Regions from separate parts of the Homo sapiens genome. Here region 1 is linked to region 2. Evidence: fine-mapped expression QTL. A gene starts in region 2. The other region holds a variant in brackets. All regions are shown on one strand. Distances are between the middles of the regions.

Region 1 (5,382 bases), 67 kb after region 2:
TCTTTCAATTTTTTTGTGTATATACCTGGGAGTGGAATTGGTGGCTTATATTGGTAACTCTATGCTCAACTTTTTGAGAGACTGCTAGATTATCTTCCAAAGCAGCTGTACTATTATTATTTTTTTTTACATTCTCACCAGCACTGTATAAGGGTTCCAATTTCTCCACCTACTTGCTAACCCTTGTTATTATTGTCTTTTTTATTATAGCCATCCTAGTGGATGTGAAATGGTATCTCATTGTAGGATTCCCCCCAATAGCGCCTTTCTCTTTACTGGGGAATAGTTCCAGTCTTGTGTATTCATCACTGTGAAGATATTAAACCTCTGGGAAAGATAGGGCCCTTCTCTAACTAATGATTGAATCTGGGGGCATATCAGGCATTCTGGCAGGGTGGAGAGGAAGAGAGTTTAGGGACATGGTGAACTTGCCACCTTTGGAAGCTCTACCATCGCAGAAGCAATCTGCTCTATTGATTGCTTTCCCTTCCCACAAAGAGACCATCAAGTGCAGAAGTAATCAAGTGAAGTTTTCTTGAAAAGGCAAGACAAGAGCTGGGCAACGAAGGGTGGGAGGCCAAAGGATGTATGAAGGGGGAAATGGAGAGGCTTCCTAAACTAAAAAATATTAAATCCTTTCTGAAAAGCACCTTCAGTAGTGACCTAAAACAAAGATGAAAGTCAAACCAATCAACAATTACTTTTGTTTAGCAATTCTGGAAAACATGTTGCAGGAGAGGACACTGGAAATGATGGTTAAAATACGGTGGGAGCCATGGCAGTTCAAGCCTGTAATCCTAGCACCTCAGGAGGCTGAGGCAAGAAGATCAGTTGATCCCAGGACTTTGAGGCTGCAGTGAGCCATGATCACACCACTGCACTCCAGCCTGGGCAACAGAGTGAGACCCCAACTCTAAAAATAATAATAATAAAATAAAATACAATGGGAGTGTTGGCCAAGGAGTTCACTTTTTCTCTCTATTCCATGCCCTTTAGGACTACTCATAATCACAAATACATTTGTGACCCTTCTGAGCGTAAATCCACCTGTCTGGGGTGCTCAATAAGTCCAAAGTAGAGTCTATGTGCTTGGTAAATGGCTCTGGCTAGAAAGCAACTGCTTGGCTAAATCACACCTGACGGTCTTCCCACTGAGATGGGAAAATGGGGCAGATAGTGTTTGCCCAGGAGCTGGGGCATAAAAGGATTCTTAGTGGATGTGATGGCTCAGAAGTGAATCTCTAGTTACCACTTGGGATCTGACAGTTTTTGAGAAGTTCTACAGGGCTGTGAAAGACTGCACAGGGGTAAAAACAAACCTTGTCATTACATTACAGGTGTTGAGAATTTCTAAAATTTACAGTATATAATACTGATTGAAAAGTAAATGTCACTGCTACTTTGGAGTTCAGCATAAGCCTTATACAGAGGCAGGGTCTGCCAGTGTGGTAAGAGGATGGCCACTGTAAGGGTTAAGTAGCCCCACATCTCTTTCCCTACCAGCCTGCTTTCTGCCCTCCAGAAACCCTATCATTTATAGCTAGTAGTAAAAGAACAACAATTGCATTTATTGGGCATTAATATGTTCCTGGTACTATGCTGAACAGATTATGTCTTACCTTGTTTGATCATCCCAACAACCTATGGGGTAGGTACCATTATCATCCCAATTTTATAGATGGAGAAACTGAGACTCAGAGATGCTAAGAATTTGCTCAGCTAATAAGCAATAATTAGCAATGGAGCTTTAATTTGAATCCAAATGGGACACTCTGAAGTAAGGCTTCTCCTCTCCCTAGGACAGGTCTTGGAAGCTGCATTTTTAGCAAGTTCCCTCATTCAGGTCTTAAGTTCTAGAAAGTTTCACACTCTTTACCCGGTGCTCTACAGCCTCATTATGAATAAAACATCAAAGGCCTATGTTACAATATAATTATCTAGAAAAGGACCCTGTTTTAAAACATTATCTACCATTTTCATTTCAGTATGAATTACTTAACGGGATTAGTATTAAGGCCTGCCAGCATGACCTCAATGTGATGGGCCACAGGAGAGTTAAGTTCTTATGGGGGAGGAGAGTTTGGGGAAAATCTAGAAATCGTTGGACTCTACCCGAGGAAAGCAGATCTAGTTAAGTCATCACATCAAGAGGCCCAGGGGAAAAAGAAGTGATGGCAGTTGAAGTGCTGAAAAAAAAAAAGAAATCTAAAGGTAGGCATCATTGATTCAACTGATGGGCCCATTTGAAGCAGTACCTCTGATCTCAGGGAGCATCCCAAGGAAAATGTCGTCTGAATCCACATAGCCTCAGAATATGAGCATTGTTACTTTTTGGAGGTGGGGGGAGGCTGCAGACACCCACTCTTCTTTGTTTTTGTTTTTGTTTTGAGATAGAGATTTGCTCTTGTTGCCCAGGCTGGAGTGCAGTGGCGCAAGCTCAGCTCACTGCAACTTCCACCTCCCAGGTTCAAGCGATTCTCCTGCCTCAGCCTCCAGAGTAGCTGGGATAACAGGCTCCCGCCACCACGCCTGGCTAATTTTTTGTAGAAACGGGGTTTCACCATGTTGACTAGGCTGGACTTGGACTCCTGACCTCAGGTGATCCACTGC[C/G]GTCGCCTCCCAAAGTGCTGGGATTAGAGGTGTGAGCCACTGTGCCCAGCCCACTGTTTTTGATACATTCATCCTGCAAGATGTGTTGCATCCTGGATGTATGCTCTTACTTTGCCTGACTGAGATGCAGCTAGCTCCCAGCTGCTCCTCCCTCCATTACAGCAGTGCTCTGGTAGAAGGCCATGGGTGATTTCCCACTAGCAACCTTATTTGTCTATGTTCCTTCCATTTGGGCCAAGGACTAAAAGCCAGCTCAGATTTACACAATTACTTTAACATTGTTTAAGAAAGCAATGTAACAACCTCCACTTTGCCCAGATGGACGGGCTCAATGATGTCGGTGGAGAGAACCCATTATTGGAATAAGACTGGGAACACAAAGTCATAGCTAGGATCTCTCCCACTAGTAGGAATACAGCCGGGCTTCTGATGACCAGCTTTGTAGGATTGATTTTCTATGGTTGGAATGGACCCAAAATGTTCACCTAGTCTAGTCTACGGCCTTCAAGTAGAAGTTTTTTCAAACGTAGTCTTCAAATTTAATGAGGAATACATTTATATCATTCAAGAATATGAATGCATATGTATATGTACATGTATATATGATTATATATCTAGGTATACATATAAAAGAATGCAATAGAATATCTTATTCACCCCGTCCCACACTCACCCAATTCTTATCTTCTCCCTACAACATGTAGTTCCCCCCCATAACTTTTAGTGGTTATATATCTTTCCAGATTTTTATGAAAATGTAAGCAAATATGAATATATATATATATTTTAAAAATATTTTTTCATTTACATAAAAGGTAGTCTATTGTGCACATCATTTTACCCCTTGTTTTCATCATTTAATAATATATCTTTCTGTATTAGTGCACAGAGAACTTATTCTTTTATAGAACTACATAATATTTTGTTATAATAATGAGCCATCATTTATTTAACCAGATTTCTATCAATGGACATAGAAGTTGTTTCCATATTCAGCCATTACAAACAATGCTGCAATGAATAATTTTTATATGTTTCACACATGTGCAAGTATATCTGTAGAATGAATTCTTAAAAATAGGATTGTTGGGTCAAATATATATGTATTTTTAAATGAACAGATATTGCTAAATTGCCCTTCATCATGTTTTAATCAAGTCTTCACAGACTTACCAAGAGAGTGTTTTATTCAAACTTTTGGATTTTTCTAAATCTGCTAAGAAAAATGGTATTTCATTGCAGTTTTAATTTATATTTCTCTAATGAATGAGGTTGATTTTTTCATGTCTAAGGGCCACTTGTAGTTCCATTTCTGTCAACTGTCTATTTATATCCTTTTTCCATTTTTACCATTGGGTTATGAATCTGTTTCTTGTCAATTTATAGAAGCTCTTTATATATTAGGGACAAATAGGATTTTAATCCCCAAACAGCAAATATGTGAAGAGATTCTATTCCAGTGTTTTACAGTGTCTTATGGCAGCAAACTCTTTCTTCAAATGAAATTTAAAAAAGCTAATAAAAACACATTTCACTAACAAAGTAAGAGGTATTCTGTTGAAGTAGAAATGGGGAAGGGATTTTTTTTTTCACATCCCTCAAGTACCTCTGAAGAATCCTAAAGCAGCACAGAACCTAGTTTGAAAATAATTTCCCTACATGCCTAGTTGGCCTGTGGTTCCAGTTTCTAATAACTCTTTCAGCAAGGAATCTTTTTTAGTATCTAACCTGAATCCTTATTGATGCAGTTGATACTCCTCCCCACTTAACATTGGCAATTTGTGATTATTTGACCTCTCTTCCATTATGAACCTTTATGTGTTATTTAAATACATTATCATTTAACACCTTTTTGTGCCTTCCCCTCCAATGAAAGCAGGATTTTACTTGAAGTCAGGGGAATGTCCTATTTATCTTTGTAGCTTTAAGGTAACATAATGCCAGGTATTGTCAATGTATAGTCAAGGATCTATTAGTGCCAGGTATAGTCAAAGACCTCCACAAGTGCTTGTTGAATGAATAAGAAAACAAGAGAGAAATAGTGTTTTGACTCATGTCTCCATAGCACCTACCATACACATCAGTGCAAAGCAAATGCCTTTCAGTTAGTTATCATCTATGGAAATTGGGAAAATTCCTTCATATTCTTCAACTTTACTGCTTTCCTCTCTGTGACCTCTTTCTAGAGCAAGATCATCTACCATTTATTGTGAATGTTATGTACCAGATACCTTTGGGCTTTTTAAAATTAATTATCGCTGAACCTCACAGCCACGTAAAGTAGAAGGCATACTCAAGCCTTCCTAAGATCACAGAACCAAGACATGCCAAAGCTGGTGTCTTAGTCTGTTTGAACTGGTATAACAAAACACCACAAACTGAGTAGCTTATAAACAACAGAAATTTATTTCTCACAGTTCTGGAAGGTGGAAATCCAAGATCAAGGTACCATCAGATTTGTTCTCTGGTGAGGGCTTGGCTTCTGGTTCAGTGATGATACCTTCTCCCTGTGAGCCTATATAGTAGAAGGGGCGAACAAGCTCCCACAGGCCTCTTCTATTAAAAGCACTAATCTCATTCATGAGGATGTTGCCCTTATAACTTAATCACCTCCCAAAGGCCCCATCTCCTAAAAGCCATCACCTTGGGGGTTACGATTTCAACATATGAATTTCAGAGGCACACAAATATTCAGATCATAGCAGCTGGGACCCCAGAGACCAATGTTTGCAGACCCCAGAGACCAGGCTCAGTTATCTTCTCTTGCATCAC
Region 2 (5,382 bases):
TACCATTATCTTAAAATAAAACTTTTTAAAAAATGAGTATGAGATTATGCTCTCATCCCTATTTAATAAACAGAGAAAATAAAGCATGAAGGTAATCATCACTTAAGTTTCTATAAGACCTGGTAGGATGTCTAGATTAGGACTCACCCAAATGGGAGTTCTCAATTCAGAAATCAAGATTGGAACTAATACAAAATACAAGGATGACTAACATTTACACTAATGAAAAACCTGTCAGAGAATTCCAGCAGCCCCATATACAGTTGCCTGCAACTGCATAAGAGATCTTAAGCAAGTTCAATAGAATCAACTCAATAGAACCAATTGAGAATAATTGCTTGCTTTAAGCCACTAGGTTTTCGGATGGTTTGTTATGCAGTAATTAGGATTCTACACCAAGCAAGGGAGTGAGTGGTTGTAGCCAAATAGATGAACTTTTAAATCCCAGTGAGTCTATTTATTTTAAATGCTAGAATTTATGTTTGTCTCAGACTATCCCTTGAAACTCATTTTCCAGAATACTCTGTAAGCATGTTGGAAGTAATGATGGGAGTTGGGTAATGCACGCACAAGAGAAATTGAACAACCAGTCCTTGCCCTTGAAGAACTCACAATCTAGTAAGACAAAACATCACTGCATTAAACGGCATGAGAACAGTTATAAGGCAACAAATCAGCAAGTTCAAACCGATATACAACAGCACAAATTGAATGCATGTGGCAGTGTATGGCTACCCAGGCAGCAGGACGGAGCTAGACATTTTGGGCCCTGAAGGCAACATTACAGAAAGGGCCCCCTTTCCTTTGTTAACAGTGAAATAAACATCACCAGCAATGCAGGGGCTAGCTGGATACTATTAACACTTCTGAAAAAGCAAAAGGAGGTAACGTTCAGGGACAATTATTCTTGTTTTAATTTTTCTTTGTTTTCTGTTCCTGATAAGTGGTTTGTTTGTTTGTTTGTTTGTTTTTTTGACAAGCCACAGTTTCTCTGAACATCAATTTCCTCATCTACAGACTGGAGATAACAACCAGAGAGTAGTGGGTTGAAAGTCAGGGAATCTGGATTGGAATCTCAAATTTGTCATTTACTAGCTGTGTGACCTTAGATACATCATCCTCTTCCCCCAATTCAGTTTCCTCTTCTGTGAAATGATGAAGTTAAGCTGAATGGTTCAGAAGTTCCCCACCAACTCTAACACTTGAGACCTCAGGTAGTTCGGTTGGTTTTGAGGGTTTAAAAAGTAATGTTGATGTATGTGAAAACACTCCGTAAGCCATAAAGTACTATACAGATGTTAGGAATATAGATATTTATCTAGTTCATCTAGAAAAAAGCTCTGCGGTTCTTCTCCAAATTTAGGGGCTTAAAATTTTGTCTGTCGAGGCAGCACTTTCCTGGACCCTAGAAGTTTCTGACAATTCTTTGCAACTATCACTTGTTGAATAAACACAAATTTGGAGTAGGCAGGCCCACCAAGGCATCAGCAGTGCTACTGTGATTTCCAGGTTGAGCTCTTGGCCCAACTTAGAAGCTTAGGGACTCATTTAAAAAAAAAATGGTGGGTATAGTGTGTGGCACCAAGTTTTCTTCAAGACACTTAACAGTTAGAACAGGCCCTTTCCATGAGGCTTGGGAGCCCAGTTTGTAAGAGAAAGTGGATTTCTAATCCCTGACCCTACACACACCCATCTCCACCCCGCCTTTAAGGACACCAAACCAAAGCTTTGTCACTCTGTTAGCCACAGTGTGGATATGGGAAACGCCGTGAAATGATAAGCAGCATGCTAGGGCGTGATTTGCGAGGAGGGTTCATTCTGTGTCCAGGGCACCAGCTCAGTACCAGACCAGGTGCACACCTCGGAAAGGCCTTGGTGCCGGAGGAGAGCGGGTGTGGGCTTCCAGGCAGGGGAGTCAGAGGGTAGTCGGTATCTTCAGGGCGTGCGCGAGTGGTGGGGAGCTCCTAGGTGCATCCAGTGCAGAGGGGGAGGAGGGACCGGAGGAGCTGTGCGGTCCCTTTAAGACCCCAACGCTCGCCTAGCCAAAGGAGTGGGGGCTGCAGTGGGGGCGCTGTGTGATGGGAAAGTAGCCGGCTGAGTCTCACACTTTCTCCCGATTTTTAAACTTTCGGGCCGGGGGAGCAGAAATAAAGCCATTGTGCCGGGGTGGAGAAAGTGTGCGTGCTTGCAGCGGCTGCGTGCTTGCGGACTTCCCGCCAGCGCCGAGCGGCCGGCTTCTCGGGCCAAGTGGGGAGCGAGCGGGAGGGCGGGCAGGTGGCCCCGGGCCGCCGCGCCCGCGCCTTGGCTCTGCCCCCGGGAGCCGAGCAAGCCGCTGCTCCCTCGTGGTGTGAGGGCGGTGATGTTTTTCCTCCCACCCACTTTTGAGTTCCCCCTCCCCCCTCGCGCGCACTCTAGCTCTCGCCACAACCTGCCAGCCCCAGACCTCGGACGAGAGCGCCCCGGGGAGCTCGGAGCGCGTGCACGCGTGGCAGACGGAGAAGGCCAGTGCCCAGGTTAGTGAGCAGTGCCCGGCGCCCGCTTCCCTCACCTCCTTTTCCAGCCTTTGCACAGGTGGGTTGCCTTCTCTTGGCCGGAGCCGTCCCTGGAAGTTTCCCCAGGGTGCCCCAAATTCCCCTGCCACCCCAACCTGTTCTGTGCTCCAGCAGTTAGCAACCTGGATGGAGGTGGGGCCCAAGGCTTCTGACCAAAGCAAGTTGGGGGTCTCTGAATTCGAACTCACAGCTCGTCCCTCCCCACTCGGCCTGCATTTCTTTATGCTCTGGCGCTTTGAGAGGTCACTTAGGTACTCCACCCTGAGCTACCCAAGGGACTCTGCAGTCCCCTTAATCACTGCCTGTATTCCTGAGCCTGTTTTCTCATTTTGCTGATGAATACATGGTAAAGTTAATGTAGCAGGGTAGATGGGCGAAAGGCTCCCTATCCTATCCTCTGGCCATCTGCCTCATTTTTTGTCCCTGACTACGGGGGTCAGAATTTGAGACACTAGGCTCTGGAAGCAACGTGGTATATTGCCAGAACATAGGGCCCGGAAAGCCTGCTTTCCAGTCCCTCCCAGCCCTGCCACTAAAGTTATTTGAGTTCTCTGGGTCCCCCCAGTGCCCATTTTGAAGGTGGAGTTGTGTGGAATGAAATGAAATGATAGAAAGGTGTTTTGCAAGCCAAATGCGAGGCATTGTTTGTCAGTCATAAGCAGCAATGAAAGCATTTCCTCCAACAAGAGATACCCTGGGTTAAAACTGCCATTTTCAGTGGCAACACACCACCAGTTAACTGAACTTTTCTTGCTGGGTGGTAGAGTGGGGAGAGGATTTCAGCTGATGGACAAGGGCCTGGGACTCCAGTGTCTTTCTTATTGTTTGTCGGAAAGAAAATTGCTACCCTAGGGGCTGTCCCACAGATGATAGTCAATGTGAGATTACAAGGTCAGTCAAGCCTCTCAGGAGGATTAAAGAGACACTGTGGGGCGTGAAGAACTGGCTGACATGTGTTCATCCCTTAGCCTTCCTGTGGGGATGTCTCTTTGCTTCTGTTCTACCCAGGAGACCTGTTCTGAAAGTGGGCTCCTGACACTTGATGGCCCAGATTGCCTTGCAGTCACAGCTGGGCAAGGAGCAGTTGGTCCCTTTGCTTAACGCAGATGAACAATGTGAATGCTTGTTTCATGGAAGCACCTTAATAAATACCTTTCTTTTGGTACTTGATACATTTCTCTTTCTCTTGTAAAACACAGGAACTCTCCCATCCCACCTCCACTACCTGTGTTAGTTGCAGGGTTTTGTTTTTTTGTTGTTGTTGTTGCTTTCTTGTTGGGTCCTGGATCCCCTGAAGCATGTCAATGGCTACATGTCTAAGTAACCTGTAAAAGAGCCAGTGCAAGTTCAATGGCACAACAGCCTGTGTGAAGCAGACAGAGAGTTAATGCAGAAATAACTCCAGTTAACTGGGTCAAAGTATAATTTGAAAAATTAAGGACAGTTTGGCTCTTTGCAAGAATAAGAGTCGGCTAAGTTCGCTGAGCAATGCTTGCTAGTGTTTACTGCTGCAGTCCCAACACATGTTTTGAACCACCCCCTTCCCTAAAAGAAAAAGCTGAAGAGATAAAGAGAAATTGAACAGTGAGGAGATCTGGGGAGGGAACTCTTCTTGGTTCATATTTCTGCACAGAATACAAAGGCAGGACTTCAGGATCTTGTAAATCAAAAGTGAATATTTATAAAGCGATTCATTTTCTGATGTTCTCCATCACAGCCTGGGAGGCCACACAGATGACAGGAACGCCAAAGGAGATTAATTGCTCTCTAGTTACCAACTTTTTTATTTGCTCATAATATTAGTTGGGACCTAAGAAAGGCAAAAAAATCTATGAGCTGTTTTCTTGCCAACTTGAGTTATGAAGCAATGCTACAGTTCACCGAATCGCCCAACCATTATACAAGAAAAGCAGCCCTGTTGATTCTCGCATGGGGAGACCCTAAAACCATGGTTTCAGAAACACCCGTTGAAATCCATATATGAATGTGATAAATTGGATTTCAGTGGTTAAAAATCTTTCTCTTTTGGAGGCTTGGGGAATAAACTTATTAGAATAGGCTCAGGAAGAACCTCACTGAGGTGGGTAGCTGTGTTAAATTGTTAATGAAAATGATTTGTTTCGAATAAACGTGGTAGCCCTCAAGGGACAGTAACATTCTGAGTGATTGTAAGTGGGCCACAAACTCACAGAGGGGACCAAGACATCAGAACTCAGGTCTTTAGATGGGTAGGAACATGTCCTGAGAGAATTTGGTTCTTTAAGGAGCAGGGAGGAGGTAAAGAAGGAAGGCAGACGGTGCTGCAAATCTTGTTTGATAGCACAGATTACTCTATCATCAGTTCTTCCTTGGTTATGCATTCATAATTGAAACAGTGGATTTTGAATGACCCAGGCAACTTCATAGCATTTAAGTAGGAGCTGTAGCATCTACTTCAGAGCCCAAAGATATTCAACTCTCCAAAATGATCGTTTTGCATTCCTTCAAGTTCTTTATGTGCAATATTTAGGTTGGACTTTCTGGAAAGATCAATGAGTTCATTTCCCATTCAGATTGAATCTGGTGTTTTTAGAACATTTCAATATTTTCAGATCACCCATTGGAGGAATTTTGCAAACTCTAACATCTGTGGAAATGATCCGTGACTAGATGTGAGCTACAGCAAACTTTCTGTGTTCCAAGGTTCAAAAGGTTTAAGATTTCTACCCCTTATACTGGGAATGCCAATCTCATGTTTTGAAGAACTGTAGTTGTTTTAATGGTCTTTTGCATGGTGGTGCAAGGTGAACAAATTATCTATTTAATTTGCCCAATTTCCCCTAAAAATGGC

What was found. PIP is the estimated chance that this variant, and not a neighbour inherited with it, causes the effect. A credible set is the group of variants that fine-mapping cannot tell apart.
Region 1: its variant is the best candidate, but not a certain one, in a credible set for the expression of CHRDL1 in sun-exposed skin (GTEx, PIP 0.56).

Annotation. Positions count from the first base shown.
Region 1 is chrX:110,726,133-110,731,514 of GRCh38, reverse strand. The region is part of intron 4 of CHRDL1 (chordin like 1); the gene reads left to right. Among named protein-coding and RNA genes, the nearest start is that of CHRDL1, 67 kb to the left of the region's middle. The variant C/G (reference allele first, on the strand shown) is at 2,611.
Region 2 is chrX:110,792,875-110,798,256 of GRCh38, reverse strand. It overlaps CHRDL1 (chordin like 1), which reads left to right and starts at 2,440. Exons shown (of 12, transcript NM_001143981.2): 1 at 2,440-2,513.